Homo sapiens: one gene and its partners. The protein of the gene in region 1 purifies or fractionates together with the protein of each later gene. This does not show direct contact. Each region holds a gene or a part of one and is shown in the gene's direction. Other genes may lie near its edges.

Region 1 (7,892 bases):
TGTGTTGGGTGGTGTGGGGGTGGGGATAACGGAGGAGATGGGGGGTGAGCTCTTCAAGCCCCAGGGGAGAATTCTGTTCCGTTCCTGGGACATCCCAGGTGAGAGGGAAGAAAGGCCAGCCCCCCAAGACAGCTATCCCAGACTGGGACAGAGGCAAACCCTGACCACAGAGCCCTGTCACTCACCCAAGAACAGGTGCCAATGACAGAATAGCCAGGCCGAGGGGGGAGAGAGGTGCTTCGGTGATGGATTTCCCTGGTGACTTGCCAAGACAGGGCTTTACTGCCTCCGCCCTGGACTGGCTGAGTCAGACTGTGCAGGGGTGGACACTTTGACTGGTATTTGGGAGGCATTTGCTGTGGGTTACAGAGAGGGAGGGGCCTCCTTTGCGGCCAGAGAAGGAGGAAAGAGGCCCTGGGCCCTGGGACTTGGGACTTGGGTGGAGGCTCGGGTTTCGGTCTCACCTGCTGCTCCAGACCATGGCCTGGAGGGCCGCCTGCGCCACCCCCAAAGCAATGAGATAGCCCCTCCTCCCTCAGACCCAGGAGTCCAGGCCCCCAGCCCCTCCTCCCTCAGACCCAAGAGTCCAGACCCCAGCCCCTCCTCCCTCAGACCCAAAGGCCTCGGACCCATACCAAATGCTTCTATGAGATAGTTTTCTCCCCTTGTTCATGAAGAAATGAGCCCAGGCCCAGTCAGATCTGCATCTGTGTCACAGCCCAGGGCCACTGTAACCTTAGGCTACTGACTTCCCTCTCTGAGCCTCTGTTTTCTCCTGTCAATGGGGCAAGGGGTCTGCTCCTTCCCTCAAACCCCAACTCAGGTACAGTCAAGCACAGAAAATACTTGTGGCATGAATGTGATGAGAACACAGAATTGCAGAAGCCAAAGAAAGAGAAGCGTAAGGGCCCTCCTTCCACCCCTACCTCCCCCACCCGCTGCTACACGCACCAGGACCACCTGCTGGGTAGCCAGGAGCTCACAGTCTAGCCCCGCTGGCCACCCCTGCAGCCCCCATCCTTCACTCAGGCAGTTGCAGGGCCCAGAACACCCCTATCTTCTAGGATTGACACTGGCTGTCAAACTCATCCTTCAAGGTGATTCCTGGCCTGCCCTCCTCCTCCAGGCAGCCTGTCCTCCTCCTCCAGGCAGCCTGTCCTGACCCTCAGCAGCCTCTCCTGGCCTTGGCAGAGCCCCTCGTGTCCTCCCTTGCAGCACGCATGGGAAGAAAGGCCATCGTCCTCGCCATTGCTAACACCAGCCTTGCGTTTCCTCTTTGCCAGGTACTGTATTGACAACTCTCTATAACCTGACTTTATCCTCCCAATAAGCTGGGTGTGGTGGGTGGCTCATGCCTGTCATCCCAGCACTTCGGGAGGATAAGGCAGGAGTATCACATGAGCCCAGGAGTTGGAGACCAGCCTGGGCAACATAAGGAGACTCTACTATATATATGTGTATATATATTTATATATAGTCTGAGATGGGAGGATCACCCCAGTAGGTCGAGACTGCAGTGAGCTGTGATTATGACACTGCATTCTAGCCTGGGCCACAGAACTAGACCTTGTCTCAATTAAGAAAAAAAATGGGGATAATAGGACCCATTCCATAGGATGTGGTGAGGATTATGCATACACACACACACACACACACACACACATTTATGATGTACTGAGAAGATATAAGCACACAATAAGTATCTCCAAAATTATCAAGTGGCAAAGCCAGGATTCAGACCCACACCTGCCCGAGGCTCTCTGCCATCAGACCACACTATATCTCTTTCTCTCTGTTCCTTCATCCCCATCAATCGAAGGCAAAAATGTGCCTTCTCTGATTTCCAGGCTCACTCAGCATAGACCGTGGAGGCAACATATCTTGAATGAAGCAACAAAGCAGTAATGCACATGAATGCACCAAATGCCAAAAGCTCGTTTACTCAACAAGTATCTCTCCAACACTTTCTATGTGCTAGACCCAATTCTGTGTGCTGCAGATTAAGTGGAGGACTGATCACACAAAAATCTTTGCCCTTGTGAAGCTTGCATTTTTTTTTTTTTTTTTTTGAGATGGAGTCTTGCTCTGTCACCCAGGCTGGAGTGCAGTGGAGCAATCTTGGCTCACTGCAATCTCCACCTCCCGGGTTCACGCCATTCTCCTGCCTCAGCCTCCGGAGTAGGTGGGACTACAGGCACCCACCACCAAGCCTGGTTAATTGTTTTGTATTTTTAGTAGAGACGGGGTTTCACCATGTTAGCCAGGATGGTCTCAATCTCCTGACCTCGTGATCCACACGCCTCGGCCTCCCAAAGTGCTGGGATTACAGGCGTGAGCCACCACACCCGGCCGCTTTTTTTTTTTTTAAGATGGAGTCTCGCTCTGTCACCCAGGCTGGAGTGCAGTGGCACGATCATCTCGGTTCACTGCAACCTCCACCTCCCAGGTTCAAGTGACTCTCTTGCCTTGGTCTCCCAAGAAGCTGGGATTACAGGTGTGCACCACCAACTCTGGCTAATTTTTTTTTTTTTAGTAGAAATGGGGTTTTATCATGTTGGTGACATGGTGTGATCTCGGCTGACTGCAACCTCCACCTCCGGGGTTCAAGCAATTTTCTTGTCTCAGCCTCCCAAGAAGCTGGGATTACAGGTGTACACCACCACCCCCGGCTAATTTTCATATTTTCAGTAGAGACGTGCTTTCACCATGTTGGCCAGGTTGGTCTCGAACTCCCAACCTCAAGTGATCAATCCGCCTCAGCCTCCCAAAGTGCTGGGATTACAGGCATGTGCCACCGTGCCCAGCCTGTGAAGCTTGCATTCTAACGGAGGAGACACAGACAAAATGAACCAGGAACACAGTGGGTAAGAAGGTGAAAAGTTCTCCACACAAAAATGAAGTAGGGAGAGAGGAAAGAGACTACAAAGAAGTTGGGTTGCCGGGGGCGGTGGCTCACACCCATAATCCCAGCACTTTGGGAGGCCGAGGCGGGCAGATCACGAGGTCAAGAGATCGAGACCATCCTGGCCAACATGGTGAAATGCTGTCTCTACTAAAAGTACAAAATTAGCCGGGCGTGGTGGCGCGCGCCTGTAGTCCCAGCTACTCAGGAGGCTGAGGCAGGAGAATCACTTGAACCTGGGGGGGCGGAGGTTGCGGTGAGCCAAGATTGCGCCACTGCACTCCAGCCTGGGCAACAAGAGTGAAACTCTGTCTCAAAAAAAACAAAAGAAGTCGAGTAAGGGATGCCGCCATTTGAAACAGGGTGGTCAGCCAGTCCTCTGAGAAGGTGACATTCAGGCAAAGATCAAAGGAGGCAAGAAAGTGAGGCATGAGGGTATCTGGTAGAAGAGCATTCCAGGCAGAGGAAACAGCAAGTGCAAAGGCCCTGAGGCAGGACCGGGTCTGGATGTTCCAAGAGCAGCAAGGAGGCCAGTGTGCTGACACACAGAAGGAAGAGATGAGATCAGAATCACGTCCCTTAAGGCCTTGCAAGATGTCAGCTTTTTTTTTTTCTTCTTTTTTGAGACAGAGTCTCGCTCTGTCGCCCAGGCTGGAGTGCAATGGCGCAATCTCGGCTCACTGCAAGCTCCGCCTTCCAGGTTCACGCCATTCTCCTGCCTCAGCCTCCCGAGTAGCTGGGACTACAGGTGCCCACCACCACGCCCGGCTAATTGTTTGTATTTTTAGTAGAGACGGGGTTTCACCGTGTTAGCCAGGATGGTCTCGATCTCCTGACCTCGTGTTCCACCCGCCTCGGCCTCCCAAAGTGCTGGGATTACAGGTGTGAGCCACTGCGCCCGGCCTGTTTTCTGTTTTTTGAGATGGAGCCTCGCTCTCTTGCCTAGGCTGGAGTGCAGTGGTGCAATTATCGGCTCGCCGCAACCTCTGCCTCCCGGGTTCAAGTGATTTTCCTGCCTCAGCCTCCTGAGTAGCTGGGATTACAGGCACCCGCCACCACACCTGGATAATTTTTGTGTTTTTAGTACAGATGGGGTTTCACCATGTTGGCTGGGCTGGTCTCGAACTCCTGTCCTCAGGTGATCTGCCTGCCTCGGCCTCCCAAAGTGCTGGGATTAGAGATGTGAGCCACTGTACCCATGCAAGTTTCTTAACCCTTCTCTTCCTCATTTTCTCATCTGTGAGACGAAGACAGCCTCCCACCCAGACACACTCCCCTCACGGGGCTCTGGGGAGAAATGATGTGGAAAGCTTTGCTAGTAACCTCTACAGCATGGAGGGAGTTCTGGAAAAGTGATTTCAGAAAGGTGTTTATGCCTGGAAAGCCTGTTCATTTTTGTGATGTCCTTGGAGCTGGGCCAGGCATTATCGAGCTAAATCTTAGCTTTTGTCAGAATAGGGGGGTCATTGAGGGAAATTTCCAAAGGAAGGTGGAACGGGATGGGTGGGGAGGTAAGGGCATGAGCAGAGGCAGTGATCGTGGGCAGGAGGTGTCCATAGAAGACGGGCTGCCACTGGCCCTGGAGACAGAAGGTCAGCCCCGGGTTCAAATCCCTCCTTAACCAAGTGCTGAAATGGACAAGTTGCTCAACCTCTCTGGCCTTCAGCTTCCTCATCTGTCAAGCAGGAATCAAACCTCGAACTTCCTCCCGCTGTTAGAATTTCAAGGGAGTTTTAAAGACAGAGCTTTCAACTCTGACCTGTGAACAAGTGTGACATCAAATGTACTGTTCGTTGCTATTATTCTGTTGCTACAAGGCAGACAGTTAGTTTCCCAGCTCCCCTGCAGTCCCCCCAGCCCCTCCTAGATCTGTCTGCCAGCCCCGCCCCGGGGTCACTCCAGCCAGGCTGTGCCAGGTGAATGCTCAGGTATGCGGAGGCGGAGGCGGAGGCAGGACGGCCCTGGGAGGGAGCAGGAGGAGGGGCCGGCAGCCTGGAAGGGAAAGGACAGCGGAGAGCAGGGCAGAGCCTGAGCAGGCAGGTAAGGAGATCCGGGTCAGGAGAGAAGGGGGCCGGGGCTTGACCAATGGGTCTGAGGGACGGGGGGACTGGGGTCTGGACTCCAGGGTCTCAGGGAGGACGGGCTGGGGGTCTGAACTCCCGGGTCTGAGGGAGGAGGGCCTGGGGTCCTGGACTCCTAGGTCTGAGGGAGGAGGGGCTGAGGGCCTGGACTCCTGGGTCTGAGGGAGGAGGAGATGGGGCCTGGACTCCTGGGTCTGAGGGAGGAGTGGACTGGGGTCTGGACTCCTGGGTCTGAGGGAGGAGGGGACTGGGGTCTGGACTCCTGGGTCTAGGGAAGAGGGACTGGGGCCTGGACTTCTGGGTCTGAGGGAGGAGGGGCTGGGGGCCTGGACTCCTGGGCCTGAGGGAGGAGGGGCTGGGGCCTGGATGCCTGCATTGAGGGAGGAGGCTGGGGTAGGAATTAGAGGCTCCTACTGGCCAGGCCTTCACATGTTTGCTGGCTCCCAGGGCACCTCCAGGTGGGCAGGAGCTACCACTCAGCACCATGAGCACCGCCACAGGGTAAGCGCCCCCGGACCCCAGGTCCCAGCCCCAGCACGCCTCCCGCCTCCCCTCGCCTCCTCACCCACACCCGCTTGCGGCAGCCCAGACTGTTTGCGGCGGCCCAGACTCTGGCCCAAGCCCCGACACTCAGGAGGAAGCCAGAGCCTCTCTCCTCCCTGCCCAGCCTGGGGTTAGGGGCCCCCACTGCAGAGCAGACAGGCCTGAGCTCCAGTTCGGCCCTCACACTCAGTGCTGATGTAACCCTGGTCAGAGGACATCACCTCCTGGAGCCTCAGCCCCTCCTCTGTGACACAGGGACAATGTTGAAAAATTGGAGGGATAGTGCATTACAGGACTTAGCTGACCACCTCACTGACAGCAGGTGCTCAACTCATAGGAGTCGCTATTGCGATTGTTATGTTGTTAGTAAATATTAACCCTTTGCTAGAAAATCAGGGCTGTTTATAATGAAGACTCAAGTCCCCCAGAGTAAGCAGGGAGAAAAACAATGAGAGATGAGTCAAAATACCTGCATGGTAGGTAGTGAGCTCTCTGGCCCAGAGGTAATCAAATTGTGGTGACATCAGACTGGCAGGAGCAGGATGAGGAACAGGAGTTTGGGAAAAAGGGTTTTTCAGTTCCCCTGACGCCACCTGATCGCTGAGCTTCTGTTATGTGCATGCAAGTGGGGATTCAAGAATTCTTAGGAAAGGTAATCTTAGGAAGAAATTGAGGACGGGAGGAGACAGAGAAGGATGTGGTTGGGAAGCACCTGGCCCATGGGAGTGGGAGGGGAAGCAGATAATTCCCTGTCTACTTCAGATACCACTAATGCTATTATAACCATTCCCATTTATTGAGCAACTTCTGTGTGCTAAGCCCTGGCAGCATCTTAAGAATGATAATAACAGTTATTGAGGCTTCAAAATACTTCACCTGCATCATCTGACTGAATTTGCCCAACAGCCCTACCAGATGGTTACTACGTTACAGAAAGAAAAACTGAGGCAGGAGAGATTAAATCCTCTTCTGAAGGTCTTATGGCAAGGAGGCAGTAGACAGAGGGTTTGAATCCCGGACTATGCCATGGTAGAGATCACACTCCCCTACCACCCAGCACCACCGCCTGACCTGACCTGTCTTTTTTTTTTTTTTTTTTTTTTTGAGATGGAGTCTCACTCTGCTGCCAGGCTGGAGTGCAGTGGCACGATCTGGACTCACTGCAACCTCCGCCTCCCAGGTTCAAGTGATTCTCCTGCCTCAGCCTCCCACGTAGCTGGCACTACAGGCGCCCACCACCACACCCAGCTAATTTTTGTATTTTTAGTAGAGACAGGGTTTCACCATGTTGGCCAAGATGGTCTCAATCTCTTGACTTTGTGATCCGCCCACCTCTGCCTCCCAAAGTGCTGGGATTACAGGCGTGAGCCACCGCGCCCAGCCTACCTGTCTTCTTAAAGTCCAGCTCTGGCTCTGAGCTCTCCTGCTCAATAATAATAATAATAATAATAATAATAATAATAATAATAACCCTTCCATCGCTCCCCATTACCTTCGTCATGAAGCCCTTGCTGCCCTGCTTGGCATTTCCACAGGATCTGCCCCCAGTCCCACAGTCTCTCTCATTCCTCTTTTCTTCACCAGCCCAGAAGCTGCCCCAAAGCCAAGCGCCAAGTCTATCTATGGTGAGCGGGGGGCAAGGGAGCCCCAGGCCCATAGAACTGGGTCTAAAGAAACAGGACCTGGCATCCAGGGTCTTGGAGGAGGAGGGGCTGGGGGTCTGGACTCCTGAGTCAGAGGGAAGAGGTGCTGGGGGTCTGGACTCCTGGGTCAGAGGGAAGAGGGGCTGGGGGGCTGGACTCCTAGGTTTGAGGGAGGAGGGGCTGGGGGCCTGGACTCCTGAGTCAGAGGGAAGAGGTGCTGGGGGCCTGGACTCCTGGGTCAGAGGGAAGAGGGGCTGGGGGGCTGGACTCCTGGGTCAGAGGGAAGAGGGGCTGGGGGGCTGGACTCCTGGGTCAGAGGGAAGAGGGGCTGGGGGGCTGGACTCCTGGGTCAGAGGGAAGAGGGGCTGGGGGGCTGGACTCCTGGGTCAGAGGGAAGAGGGGCTGGGGGGCTGGACTCCTGGGTCAGAGGGAAGAGGGGCTGGGGGTCTGGACTCCTGAGTCAGAGGGAAGAGGGGCTGGGGGGCTGGACTCCTGGGTCAGAGGGAAGAGGGGCTGGGGGCCTGGACTCCTGGGTCAGAGGGAAGAGGGGCTGGGGGCCTGGACTCCTGGGTCAGAGGGAAGAGGGGCTGGGGGTCTGGACTCCTGGGTCAGAGGGAGGAGGGGCTGGGGGGCTGGACTCCTGGGTCAGAGGGAAGAGGGGCTGGGGGCCTGGACTCCTGGGTTTGAGGGAGGAGGGGCTGGGGGCCTGGACTCCTGGGTCAG
Region 2 (7,027 bases), on another chromosome or scaffold:
ACAAAGAAAGAAAAGGCATACAAATTGGAAAGGGAAAATTGTCCCTATTTGCTGACAACATGATTATCTACATAGAAAATCCAGGGAATCTATGAAAAAGCTACTAGAACTAATTAATGAGGTTAGCAAGGTCACAAGATACAAAGTCAACACACAGAAGGCGACCTTATTTTTCTTTTTTTTTTTTGAGACAGAGTTTCATTCTTGTTGCCCAGGCTAGAGTGCAATGGTGCGATCTCGGCCCACCGCAACCTCTGCCTCCCGGGTTCAAGCGATTCTCCTGCCTCAGCCTCCCGAGTAGCTGGGATTACAGGCATGTGCCACCATGTCTGGCTAATTTTGTGTTTTTAGTAGAGATGGGGTTTCTCCGTGTTGGTCAGGCTGGTCTGGAACTCCCAACCTCAGGTGATCCGCCTGCCTCGGCCTCCCAAAGTGCTAGGATTATAGGCGTGAGCCACCGGGCCCGGCCTGGCGACCTTATTTCTGCATACAGCAGTGCCCCTTATCCATGGGGAGATACATGCAAAGTCAACACTATACAAGCTGACCTTATTTCTGTTTACAACAGTCCTTGTTATCCATGGACGATACGTTCCAATGGAAGCCTGAAACCTGAGATAAGACAGAACCCTCCGTGTACTGTGGTTTTTTTCCCTATACATCTATGCCTATGATAAAGCTTAATTTACAAATTAGGCGCAGTAAGAGATTACCAACAATAACTGTTCATAATATAGAATAATTATATACTGAATAAAAGTTATATAAATGTGTTCTCTCTTTCAAAATATCTTTTTGTATGCACTCACCTATTTTTGGAGGGCAGTTGACTGTAGGCAGCTATAACTGGGGAAACAGAAATTGCAGATAATGAAACTACAGGTAAGTGGGGACTACTGTACTAGCAATGTACAATTAGAAAGTTAAATTTGGCTGGGCGTGGTTGCTCACGCCTGTAATCCCAGCACTTTGGGAGGCCGAGGCGGGCGGATCACAAGGGCAGGAGTTCGAGACCAGCCTGGCCAACATAGTGAAACCCTGTCTCTACTAAAAATACAAAAATTAGTTGGGCATGGTGGCGTGCGCCTGTAGTCCCAGCTACTCAGGAGGCTGAAGCAGGAGAATCGCCTGAACCCGGGAGGCGGAGGTTGTGGTGAGCCGAGATCGCGCCACTGCAGTCCAGCCTGGGCAACAGAGCGAGACTCCGTCTCAAAAAAAAAAAAAGAAAATTAAATTTAAAAACACAACATTTCGTTTGCTTCAAAGGAATCAAATACTTAGGTATACATTGAATAAGACTTACAGGATCTGTATGCTGAAGATGAGAGAAATCAAAGATCATTTAAGTAAATGGGGGAACATACCATGGTCAGTGGTTGGAACACTCAACATAGTAAAGACATCAGTTCTCTTCATATTGATCTATAAATTTAACCCAATTCCAATTTAAAAATATTAGCATGCTTTAAAAACAAAAATTTTAAACAAAAATTTTGTTTATTGAGGTATAATATACCTACTTTATAAAATTCACCTACTTTTAAGTATACGTTTGGCTGGCCTGTGAACGAGGGGGTTAGGGATTCCAACCCCCTGTGCAGTTGAAAATCCGAGTGTAACTTTTTTTGAGATGGAGTTTCGCTCTTATTGCCCAGGATAGAGTGCAATGGCACGATCTTGGCACACTGCAACCTCTGCCTCCTGGGTTTAAGCCATTCTCCTGCCTCAGCCTCCCAAGTAGCTTGGATTACAGGCATGCGCCACCACTCCCACTAATTTTGTATTTTTAGTAGAGAGGGGGTTTCACTGTGTTGGTCAGGCTGATCTCGACCTCCTGACCTCAGGTGATCTGCCCGCCTCTGCCTCTGCCTCCCAGAGTGCTGGGATTACAGGCGTTAGCCACCGAGCCTGGCCTTTAACCTTTTTTTTTTTTTTTTTTTTTTTTGAGACGGAGTCTCGCTCTGTCTCGGCTCACTGCAAGCTCTGCCTCCCGGGTTCAAGCGATTCTCCTGCCTCGGCCTCCTGAGTAGCTGAGATTACAGGCACCCGCCACCATGCCTGGCTAATTTTATATTTTTAGTAGAGATGGGATTTCACCATGTTGGCCAGGCTGGACAAGTATAACTTTTGACTTCTCAAAAGTTAAAACTACGTGACTTCCCAAAAGTTAAAACTACGAATAGCCTGCTATTGACCAGAAACCTTACTGATAACATAAACAGTTGATTAACAGAGATTTTGTAAGTTATATGTATTACATACTGTGTTCTCATAATAAAGTAAGCTAGAGAAAAGAAAATGTTGTTAAGAAAATCATGAGGAAGAGGAAATAAACTGACTACTCATCACGTGGAAGTGGATCATCAGAAAGGTCTCCATCCTCAAAAAGCTCACAGTGAGCAGGCCAAGGAGGAGGAAGTGGATGGGTTGGTTTTGCTGTCTTGGGGGTGGCAAAGGCAGAAGTGGAGGGAGGTGGAAGGAGGGGCTAGAGAGGCAGGCATACACCGTGTAACTTTTACTGGAAAAAGTCTGCAAATAAGTGGACCCGCATGGTTCAAACACGTGTTGTTTCAGGGACAACTATACAATAATTTTTAGAAGATTTCTGGAGCTGTGCAACAACCATCACCATAATCCAGTTTTTGTTTGTTTGTTTTGAGACAGGGTCTCACTCTGTCACCCAGGCTGGAGTGCAGTGGTGTGATCTCAGCTTACTGCAACCTCCGCCTCCTGGGTTCCAGTGATTCTCATGCCTCAGCTTCCCAAGTACCTGGGATTACAGGAGGTGCCACCAAGCCTGACTAATTTTTTTGCATTTTTAGTAGAGGAAGGGGTTTCACCGTGTTGGCCAGGCTGGTCTCGAACTCCTGGCCTCAAGTGATTCATCTGCCTCGGCCTCCCAGTACTGGGATTATAGGCATGAGCCATCGTGTCCGGCCTGTTTTTGTTTTTTTAATTTTAATTATTTTTTAAATGGAGATGGGGTATCACTATGTTGCCCAGGCTGGTCTTGAACTTCTGGGCTGGAGCAATCCTCCTTTCCTCCTGAAAGTGCTAGGATTACAGATGTGAGCCACCAGGCCCGGCCTTGCTCATCTGTTGATGGACAGTTAGGTTGATTCCATGTCTTGGCTGTTGTGAAAGGTGCTGCAATAAACATGGGGTACAGCGATCTCTTGGACATACGGATTTCATTTCTTTTAGATATATACCCAACAGTGGTGTTGCTGGGTCATATGGTAGTTCTATTTTTAATATTTTGAGGAACCCCCGGCACTGTTTTCTACAATGGCTATACTGATTTACATCTCCACCAACAGTGTACAAGGGTTTCCCTTTCTCCACACCCTGGACAACACTTGTTATCTTTTGCCTTTTTGACAAGAGCCAGTCTGACAGGTGTGAGGTGATAGCTCATTGTGGTTTTGATTTGGATTCCCTGATGATTAGCGATGTTGAGCATTTTTTCATACACCTGTTGGCCACTTGTACACCTTCTTTTGAGAAATATCCATTCAGATCTTTTACAATTGAGTTGTTTGAATTCTTTGTATATTTTCATTATTAATCCCTTATTAGTTATATGGTTTGCAGATATTTTCCTGCATTCTGTAGATTGTCACTTTGTTGATTGATTCCTTTGCTGTGCAGAACATTTTTAGTTTGATGTAATCCCATTTGTCTATTTTTTCTTTTGTGGCCTTTGCTTTTGAGGCTTTATTTCCTCAAAATAAGCCAGGCACAGAAAGACAAGTACTGCACGATCTCACTCACATGTGGAATCTGAAAACGCTGATGCCACAGAAGAACAGAGCAGAATGGTGGTTACCAGAGGCTGGGGTGGCTGGCGGAAGGGGAGAGAGGAAGATGTTGGTCAAAGGATACACATTTACAGTTAGATACAAGGGGGAAAGTCCAGAATAGGCAAATATACAGAGACAGAGAGTAGACAGGTGATTGCCTGGGGCCAGAAAGCAGGGGAGAGAGGATCAGTGAAGAACGGGTAGAAAAAGTGAGAATAACTGCTAATGGTTAGGGAGTTTCTTCTCCCTTTTTTTTTTTTTTTTTTTTTTTTGACAAGGTCTCGTTCTGTCACCCAGGCTGGAATGCAGTGGGGCAATCATGGCTTACTGCAGCCTTGCCCTTTTGGGCTTAAGCAATTCTCCCACCTCAGCCTCTCCAGTACCTGGCACTACAGGTGTGCACCATCATGCCTGGCTAAATTTTGGTTGGTTGTTGTTTTGTTTTTTTGAGACGGAGTCTCACTCTGTCGCCCAGGTTGGAGAGCAGTGGCGCGATCTTGGCTCACTGCAACCTCTGTCTCCCAGGTTCAAACGATTCTCCTGTCTCAGCCTCCTGAGTAGCTGGGATTACAGGTGTGCACCACCATGCCCGGCTAATTTTTGTATTTTTAGTGGAGGCAGGGTTTCACCATGTTGGCCAGGCTAGTCTCAAACTCCTTACCTCAAGTGATCCTCCTGCCTCAGCCTCCCAAAGTGTTGGGATTACAGGTGTGAGCCACCGCCTAATTTTTGTGTTTTTTTGTAGAAATAAGGTTTCACCATGTTGCTCAGACTGGTCTCAAACTCCTGAGCTCAGGTGATCCCCCTGCCTGGGCTTCGCAGGGATTATAGGCTAAGCCACCGCACCTGGCCACATTTAAGTCTTTAATTCATTTCGGGTTGATTTTTGTCTATGTTGAGAAGCCAAGGTCTGATATTATTTTTCTGTATGTGTGTATCTAGTTTTCTCAACACCGTTTATTGAAGAACCTATCCTTTTCTCATTGTGTGTTCTTGGCACCTTTGTTAAAAATCAGTTGGCTGCAAATGCATGCATTTATTTCCAGGCTCTATTCTGTTCCATTGGTTTATGTGTCTGTGTTTATGACAATAGTGTGCTGTTTGGGTTACTATATCTCTGTAGTTTTTTTTGTTTTGTTTTGTTTTTGAGACGGAGTCTCACTCTGTCACCCAGGCTGGAGTGCAATGGCGCAATCTTGGATCACTGCAACCTCCGCCTCCCGGGTTCAAGCGATTCTCCTGCCTCAGCCTCCTGAGTAGCTGGGGATTACAGGCGTGCGCCACCACACCCAGCTAATTTTTTTGTTTTTAGCAGAGACGGTGTTTCACCATGTTGGCCAGGCTGGTCTCGAACTCCTGCCCTCAGGTGATCCGCCCACCTCAGCCTCCCAAAGTGCTGGGATTACAGGCGGGAGCCACCATGCCCAGCCTCTGTAGTATATTCTGAAGTCAGGTAGTGTGATGCCTCCAGCCTTGTTCTTTTGCTCAGGATAGCTTTTGCTATTCCAAGTCTTTTGTGGTTCCACACAAATTTTAGGATTTCTTTTTCTATTTGCATGAAGAATATGGTAGGTATTTTGATAGAGACTGCATTGAATCTGTAGATTGCATTGAATCTGTAGATTGCTTTGAATCTGTAGATTGCATTGAACCTGTAGATTGCATTGAATTTGTAGATTGCTTTGGGTACTATCTATTGTTTATTTATTTTTTGAGATGAGTTACCTAGGCTGTTACCCAGGCTGGAGTTCAGTGGTGCAGTCATGGCTCACTGCAGCTTTGATATCCTGGGCTCAAGCGATCCTCCCACTTCAGCCTCCTGAGTGTCTGGGACTACAGGTGTGAGCCACCACGTGCAGCTACTTTTTATTTTATTTCTTTTCTTTTTCTTTTTTCTTTTTTTTTTTGAGACAGAGTTTTGGTCTTGTTGCTCAGGCTAGAGTGCAATGGCGCAATCTTGGCTCACCGCAACCTCTGCCTCCCGTGTTCAAGCAGTTCTCCTGCCTCAGCCTCAAGCTACTCAAGCTGGGATTACAGGCGCCCACTACCACGCCTGGCTAATTTTGTATTTTTAGCAGAGATAGGGTTTCTGCATGGTGGTCAGGCTGGTCTGGAACTCCTGACCTCAAGCGATCTGCCTGCCTTGGCCTCCCAAAGTGCTGGGATTACAGGCATGAGCCATCACGCCCAGCCTTATTTTATTTTTTAGTAGAGACAAGGTCTAGCTGTGTTGCCCAGGCTAGTCTTGAACTCTTGAGCTCAAGTGATCCTCCCACCTCATCCTCACAAAGTGTTGGGATTACAGATGTGAGCAACAGCACCTGGTCTATTAATTCTGTTGTTGCCAGTGTTTTTGGTGTCATATCCAAGAAATCATTGCCAAATCTGATGTCATGAAGCATTTCTCCTGTTTTCTTCTAAGAGTTTTATAGTTTTAGATCCGATGTTTAGGCGTTGATCTGTTTTGAATTAACTTTTCTTTTTTGTGTGTGTGTTTGGTTTTTTTTCGAGACAGATCCTTGCTCTGTCGCCCAGGCTGGAGTGCGGTGGCGCAATCTCGGCTCACTGCAAGCTCCGCCTCCCGGGTTCAAGCGATTCTCCTGCCTCAGCCTCTCTAGGAGCTGGGATTACAGGCCCCCGCCACCACACCCAGCTAATTTTTTGTATTTTTAGTAGAGACGGGATTTCACCGTGTTAGCCAGGATGGTCTCGATCTCTTGACCTTGTGATCTGCCCGACTCGGCCTCCCAAAGTGCTGGGATTACAGGAGTGAGCCACCACGCCAGGCCAAATTAACTTTTCTGTATATTATATAAGGTAATGGTCCAACATAATTCATGTATGTGTGGATATTCAGTTTTCCTAACACAATTTGTTGAAAAGACTATTCTTTTTCCATTGAATGATCTTGACATCATTGTTGAAAATTGTTTGGCCACATATGTGAAGGTTTATGTCTGGGTTCTTTGTTCTGTTTAATTGGCCAGTATGCCTTTCTTTATGCCAGTGCCACACTGTTTCAATTACTGTAGCTTTATGGTAAGTTTTGAAATAAAAAGGAGTGAAGTCTCCAACTTTGTTCATCTTTTTCAAGATTGCTTTGGCTATTCTGGGTCCTTGGAGATTCCTATGAATTTTAAAATGGGTTATTTTTGCAAAAACAAAGTGCTGTTGGAATTTTCAAAGGGATTGCATTGAGTCTTTAGAAGGCTTTGGATTGTATT
Region 3 (7,027 bases), on another chromosome or scaffold:
GCTGGTATTATAGGCATGAGCCTCTGCGCCCGGCCACGAGCGTACTTTTCATGCTTAGGTTGCAGGTTTTGTAGGAGAGTGATGGCTTTGTAGGAGAGGGATGGGAACTATAGGGGCATCTAAAGCTCTAAAACATCACTGCCTCCTCTTCTCCCCCACCAGCCCACAACCACTGCCTCTCAAGCTTAACAAATGCTTGAGAGGCAGTAGATGTTAGGCTTGCCTTTAAGTAAAAGAGAGCAGGATCTACTAATCAATATTAGTACCTGCTACATACCTAACACAGTGACAATAACAATGAAAATTAATAAAAACAATGAGAACTAAGGTCTTTTAGTTCTAAAAGTAACCAAAGGCTCGTTCCCTTATGCTTTCAGAAGCCCTGCAGCAGTGTTGTGACCTCTCCCAGCTCTGGTTCCGAGAATTCTTCCTGGAGTTAACCATGGGCCGACGAATCCAGTTCCCCATCGAGATGTCCATGCCCTGGATTCTAACGGACCATATCCTGGAAACCAAAGAACCTTCCATGATGGAGTAAGAGGCAGGATTGGGCCAGCAAGTGGCTCCTGGGGTACAAGTAGAGGGCAGTTTGCCAGGGAGATCCGTTCTTTCCAGAAGGAAGCACTGAGTTGACAAGAAATGAGGCCATATGTCCCACCACAGGGAGAGCTCAGCCAGACAGAATCATTTAATTCAGCCTTGCAGATAAATTCTGAAGTTTCCCAGCCCAACTGCCCTTCCTATGCCTTGTCAGCCTCATAACAGCTATGCTCAGAAAAGAATCATCTCAGGAGCAGGTAGCTTGTATTCTTAACTGCTACCTGATGTGTTTTAGTCCCAAATGAATTTTTACAAGTCTTGGTTTTATTTGCACCCTGGACTTTTTCTTTGGACTGACTGTAAAGTAAGTTGCTTCTAAGCGGTGGAGGCTCAAGGAACGTAAGAGAGGGATGAAAGATGGTCTTTTCCTGACTGTGAACTTGTTTCTATTTCCCAAGCAAGTATAAAGCTGTCTTCCTTAAGGGGGGTTATTAGCAAGCGGCTGGCTGTGTTTTTCCCTCTTCAGGTATGTCCTCTACCCTCTGGATCTGTACAACGACAGCGCCTACTATGCTCTGACCAAGTTTAAAAAGCAGTTCCTGTACGATGAGATAGAAGCTGAGGCAAGTGATGTGCTTCTCTTTTTGCTCCTTTAATCTTGTTCCAAATTCCGGACTTTTCCAGTCTTTTGCTATTAGCATGAAGTAGGAGTATCAGTGACTTGTTCTGGAGAGGAATCTCTGTAACCATGGCCATCAGAAGGCCTGTGTAACCTCTGAGGGCAGAAGTACAAACTGAGACACCCAGCTCAGGGCCTGCTGCCTTTCTCTTCCCACCCACAAACTCTGTGCTGCACCATGAAGGGCTTCATGTGCATGTGTATAAATACCCAAGCTCTGCCTGCCAACTCTGCTCAAAAACAGTGGCCCTTGGCTAGACCTAAACCCTAGGGTCACACACACCCATAGTGGAGTCCACCCTCAGAGGGGAAGCCAGGGAAGAGAGCACGTGGCCCTGGAAGAGGCTTGAGCCGCCTGTAGAAGGCTTCTCAGAACTGGTTCTAGAAGGGGAGAATGGGGCCTGAGTGCACACGCCCACCTTGACCTTATGGATTCTTTGCCTGGAGGGAGGTCCGCTGATGACCCTTGAAGCTCAAAGTGCAGGTCAGAGGCCTCGGTGACCTGGGTCTGAGGAAAGCACTAAACACAGCGCTGGGGTTTTGTGTTCTGCATACCACGTAGGGTGTGAGATGAAAGATCTGAAAGCTTTTTGAATCATTAACCTTATGGAGCCAAGAGTCTGGTGAAAAAAGGACCAAAGGTTAATCACATAAATATTAAACATGAAAGACTTAAAATATTAAATCTGACAGTAAATAGGATCTGTTTCCTTTGACTCTTACCTAGCTACTGCCTTTGCCCCATCTCATGGTCATGTCCTGCTCTTGCCATTTCTGAAATATTTGGTTTGATTCTTCATGTCTGTGTGAATTATCTTCCCACCTGAGCATCACAGTCTATCACTGATGATGAGACCCTGAAATGGCAAGACTTTATTCATTAAAAACCAAAGTTATGTAAGCAAAGTTTGAAGGAAGGCGCTTTTAAATGTGACTATCAACTTCATAAACAAATTTGTGGCCACATGTGGTGGCTCATGCCTGTAATCCTAGCACTTTGGGAGGCCAAGGTGGGTGGATCACCTGAGGTCAGAAGTTCGAGACCAACCTGGCCAACATGGTGAAACCCCGTCTCTACTAAAAATACAAAAATTAGCCAGGCATGGTGGTGGGTGCCTGTAATCCCAGCTACTTGGGAGGCTGAAGGATGAGAATCACTTGAACCCGGGAGGCGGAGGTTGCAGTGAGCCGAGATCACACCACTGCACTCCAGCCTAGGTGACAGAGCAAGACTCTGTCTCAAAAAAAAAAAAAATTGCAAATCAAAGAAAAATACAATGAAAATAACATCCATCTGAAGAGATGGATGGGGAGGCTGCCGAGTTAGCGGACGAATTTGAGCACTGATGGGTTCTGACAGTCTGTCTGTTGCATCCCTCCAGGCAGGCGGCCTCGAAACAGCTGAGGAGAGGGGCCGTGGGGAGATTGGGTCCTTTTTGAACTTTGACTTGTCTGTTCACTGACTGAGGACCCTGAGAGCAAGGGACCAAATCTCCCAAACTTAGCCACAGAATATTTTTCCCCTTCAAAGCGTCTTTCCCCAGAATGCACTCTGGGCAATCCTGCCTGACTGCTGTCTTTCAGTTGGCTCAGTTTCTGTCATAAAGCTGAACGGGCACCAGTGATGTTTCCTGCTTCCTCTCCACCAGGTGAACCTGTGTTTTGATCAGTTTGTCTACAAGCTGGCAGACCAGATCTTTGCTTACTACAAAGCCATGGCTGGCAGGTAGGAAAGCCCCAGAGCTGTGAGTAGCAATCTCTTAAGACTGCCACCTAGAAGACATGATTTTCTGTTGTGAAACCTCCCTTCTTCTTTAGCACCTTAGGAAAACAGAGCCATTCCACGGACCCGGACTGGGTGCTGAGATAGAGTGGAAAGGAAACTAGGCAGATAAAGGGCTAACCTCACACAGCCTGCAGTCCAGCAGGAAAGACAGACATCGACTAAAAGCCGATGAATGCACAGTGACAAGGAGGTTACATGCTGTCTGTGAGGGAAAAGCTCATGGGAATGTACGATGGTTAAACCTTTGGGGGCGGGGAACTAGAAAGGCCATCTTGCGGAAGTGGCATCTGAGTTCTTATCTGAAGTTGGTAGGAGTGAAGGAAGTAAAACGAGGTGAAGGATGGGGCAGGACGTTGCAGGCAAAAGGAACTGCTTGTGCAAGGACCCTGCGGTGGGAGTATGATGATAACAGCATGCCAACTTCACAGGGCTGTGGGAGGATTCCTGTGGATTAATACATGTCAGTGTCTCTTCACCACCACTAGAGGGGGCAAGCTGCATGCTAAGGCTGGGGAGTGGGCAGGGCCAGAGCACACCAGCTTTGTAGCTGTTTCTCCCGGGAGTGGAATGCCTCCGAATGGTTTCAAAAGTACAACCGTGACCCGATTCGATTTTTATTTACTTTTGAAAGTTTACTCTCTTAAAAATATAAATGTATGGAGAATGAATTGGAGAGGAATGGGTGTGTGCAAACCAGACAGGAGGCCAGTGAAGAAGTCTGGATCAGAGATGTATCAAGCTTTAGAGGCTCCTTGGTATTGCCAGTATATGTTGATTCAGACCCTCGTGAGTTCTTGGGTTTCAAGGACCTGTAACAGCATTGATCGAGGAAAACCTCAAATTTTATATATAGGTATTTCCTTTCTTATTGGAAATCCAAACATACCAACCAGTAATTTCAAGGATAGTTCCTTACTTTAATAATTTTTCTATGAAAAGGATTTGCTTCATTTTGCTTTTAACAGCCAAAGTAGCCCTGATATATTTCAAAGAGGAGTTGATGTGCAGCACACACAAGTGTCTGTTAACACAGGATGTGCATTAAATAACGCGACTCTTAAATGCTGTAAAGTATTGAAAGCATGCACGTAGGATTTCAAGGAAAGCAGAGAACACAGCCTTTCACAAAGTAGTCAATAGGCATCTGTGGATTGAATGGGATGTGGTTCTAACAGTGAGTTGAGTTTCTGGCTTCTGTAAGACAATTCTGATTCCAAATACACTGTTCCATCATCTATATAAACAGACTCAGGCGTGTCGAACCCTGGGTCTTCCTTCTTCAGACATATGGGCTTTTATCTACACCCTTCCCTGTAAGATCAGTGATTTTTTAAAGTGTGGGAAGTTGAGGAGGTTGAGAGATTCAGGGAAAGCCCAGGAAGAAAACCATGAGCTAGGTCAGTCCTGTTCATTCAAAATGCCATGTGGCCACAAATATGAGCCAGAGATGTTATTTTAAATTTTTTAGCAGACATATTTTAAAAAGGAAAAAGAAGCAGATGAAATTAATTTTAATAATATATTTTATTTAACCCCACATATCCAAAACATTATAATTTTGACATACACTCAATATAGACATTATTAGAGATTTTTCATTCTTTTCTTCTAAGTCCTCAAAATCCTGTTTACAGCCCATCTCAATTTGGACCAGCCACATCTCAAGTGTTCAGTAGGCACATGTGGCTGGTGGCTACTACTTTGGACAGTGTAAATATAGATGGTGTCTCTTTCTTGCGTAAAACCTTTTGGTGCCTTTTAGTTATGTCTAGAATACACCTAGCCACTTTACTATGGCCTGTGTGGCCCTACCTGGTTTGGCCCTGGTCTCATGTTATAAATTCATTTTGCACCATGCTCTCCAACCTGCACTATACTTTATCCACACTGGCCATCTTTCCTTTTCTTAAATGTAACCAAGCTTGTTGTGTAAATGATAGTGTTCCCTTAGATCTTTCCAATTTTATCATTCAGGTCTCTGTTTAGCAAAACTTCTTTAGAGAGACTTTGGACTTCCTAACTCCAAATGATCCCATTTTCTTATTTTCAAAGCACTTCTCCTCTGCAATCCATGCCTCAGTGTGAAAGATAGTAACACTCTCAGCTCATAGGGTTGTGGTGAGATTTAAAATGTGTGTGTGTGTGTGTGTGTGTGTGTGTGTGTGTGTGTGTGTGTTTGTGTTTAAAGTGCCTGGGAAATAATAAACACTATGCAACTGTTACCTATTATCTGAAATTATTCCATTCCTCTGTTTGTGTTTATATTATCAGTCTTTCCTCACTCGAATATAAACTCCATGAGGACAGGAACTTTGTATTCCCAGTACCCAGAATGTTTCCTGGGATACACCAAGCAGGCACTCAATTGCTTTTGCAGTAAATGAATAAAAGAGGAAAGTGGCTCAACTTCTGTGTTGCCCATCTTTAACTTAGAAACTCTGTTTCACATATTGAGCTTCTGTGACTGAAAAGAAATTTGACGTAACTTGTCTAGAGCAGAAAACAATTTTACTTAAGTTATATAAGATAGTGCTCTGTGGGTAGATCCTATGATCTGAAATAGATGTATCTGGGCAGTTGAGAGTCATTCACAATCTGTTTACTGGCCTTGTTTCACTTTTATTCCTTGCAGTGTCCTGTTGGATAAACGTTTTCGAGCTGAGTGTAAGAATTATGGCGTCATCATTCCGTATCCACCGTCCAATCGCTATGAAACACTGCTGAAGCAGAGACACGTCCAGGTATGGGGAGCAGAAGCCACCTTGGAGATGGAAGGGGCAGGAGAGAGCAGCTGCGAAGTTAGCATAGAGATCAGAAATCAGGCCTGGGTATTGTCTGCCCGGCATGTTGCCAGTGTGGATTTCCGAGCCTGGGTGTAGCACAGCCTCAGGATCTCATAAACAATAAAGAGGCATTGGGCTTCCTTTGGCTCAAGTTCTGGGCTTCTCCACCCATCTATAGCCAACCTCTGACAAGTTATGGCAACCAAAGCCTTTGTCTTCTCATCATAACCTGCAGCCCACTTTTTTCAGCTGGGACTGCCACTTAGAGATGGGTAAATCTGTCCCTGAACAGGGCCCAAGTGCCGGTCTAAGTGAGGAAGACTGTGGCGCCTTTGAAATGAAAGCATGTCAGGGCAAATCCACGGTAGAAATTGGGTTTTTTGTGTGCAGAGTTGGTTTCTATTAACATTTGACCCTATATGTAGAGGAGATGTTGCTGGGAACTGAGAAACATCCCCATTTAATAATATTAATGTGAGGCAGACAGACAGCATAAGAGATGCCCCAGCAGATGTCGAGCCCTCCTCCTACAGCCCTGCTGTTGGCCAAGCGGGTGGCAAAATGGCCTTTATGCTGTGACGTCTGTGTGCTTATTATGTGGTCCTGGTCTTTGTGAAAGGGCCAGGCTGAGGCTAAGATCATGCCAGAGGTGAAAAGGAAAGAATTCATCTCAGAAACCCTGGACATTCCCATTACTATGAGAAATCCAAGGGAGATGGAGAATCATTAAGAGGGGGGAAAAATAGAATTTGTACTTCTGTCAACAACAGGGGCTCAATGAGAGCTTTTCTTTCACCCTTTCAGAAGATTACTGCTATCGGTTACAATGCAGCCAGAATTAGCCACAGGATATTAAATACTGAGGGCTTTATGTGTGCATAAGATGGCTATAAGGGGCCCTGGTCAGTTGGTAGAAAATTGATGCCAAAAGAGAAGTTGAAAAATAAAATAGTTAAGAATAATCATTTGACACCTAGCAAAGTGCTGTGGACACAGCAGGTACTCAACAAATGTTCATTGCTATCTACATAGCAGCTGCAGTAATGCCCGCGTGTACCCCAGTGGAAAGTACCTTAAGTTATATTTTCCATTCTGTAATCAGACCTTCATCCTCTTGCTTTTAAATTTTCCCTCATGAAGGCACAATGTGGGCCCTTGCTGAGGCAGCTGCTGTGCCCTGGTGACTGAATTGAGTGCAAGAAAGATGGCAGAAAGAACCCCAGGGCTAAATTTGGGATG

Evidence for each region.
Region 2: the proteins of EPS8L1 (region 1) and CYFIP1 purify together in Homo sapiens (co-immunoprecipitation; 2 studies listed by BioGRID and IntAct, with this or other methods). This does not show direct contact.
Region 3: the proteins of EPS8L1 (region 1) and CYFIP2 purify together in Homo sapiens (co-immunoprecipitation; 2 studies listed by BioGRID and IntAct, with this or other methods). This does not show direct contact.

What each region holds. Positions count from the first base shown.
Region 1 is NC_000019.10:55,070,978-55,078,869, forward strand, and holds the start of EPS8L1 (epidermal growth factor receptor kinase substrate 8-like protein 1), read left to right. Parts: upstream 1-4,891; 5' UTR 4,892-4,942; exon of another isoform or gene 4,943-5,430; 5' UTR 5,431-5,467; coding exon 5,468-5,484; intron 5,485-7,110; coding exon 7,111-7,151; intron 7,152-7,892. UniProt on the Homo sapiens protein: Stimulates guanine exchange activity of SOS1. May play a role in membrane ruffling and remodeling of the actin cytoskeleton.
Region 2 is NC_000015.10:22,970,360-22,977,386, reverse strand, and holds part of CYFIP1 (cytoplasmic FMR1-interacting protein 1), read left to right. Parts: intron 1-7,027. UniProt on the Homo sapiens protein: Component of the CYFIP1-EIF4E-FMR1 complex which binds to the mRNA cap and mediates translational repression. In the CYFIP1-EIF4E-FMR1 complex this subunit is an adapter between EIF4E and FMR1.
Region 3 is NC_000005.10:157,325,105-157,332,131, forward strand, and holds part of CYFIP2 (cytoplasmic FMR1-interacting protein 2), read left to right. Parts: intron 1-377; coding exon 378-534; intron 535-1,066; coding exon 1,067-1,163; intron 1,164-2,868; coding exon 2,869-2,945; intron 2,946-5,637; coding exon 5,638-5,746; intron 5,747-7,027. UniProt on the Homo sapiens protein: Involved in T-cell adhesion and p53/TP53-dependent induction of apoptosis. Does not bind RNA. As component of the WAVE1 complex, required for BDNF-NTRK2 endocytic trafficking and signaling from early endosomes.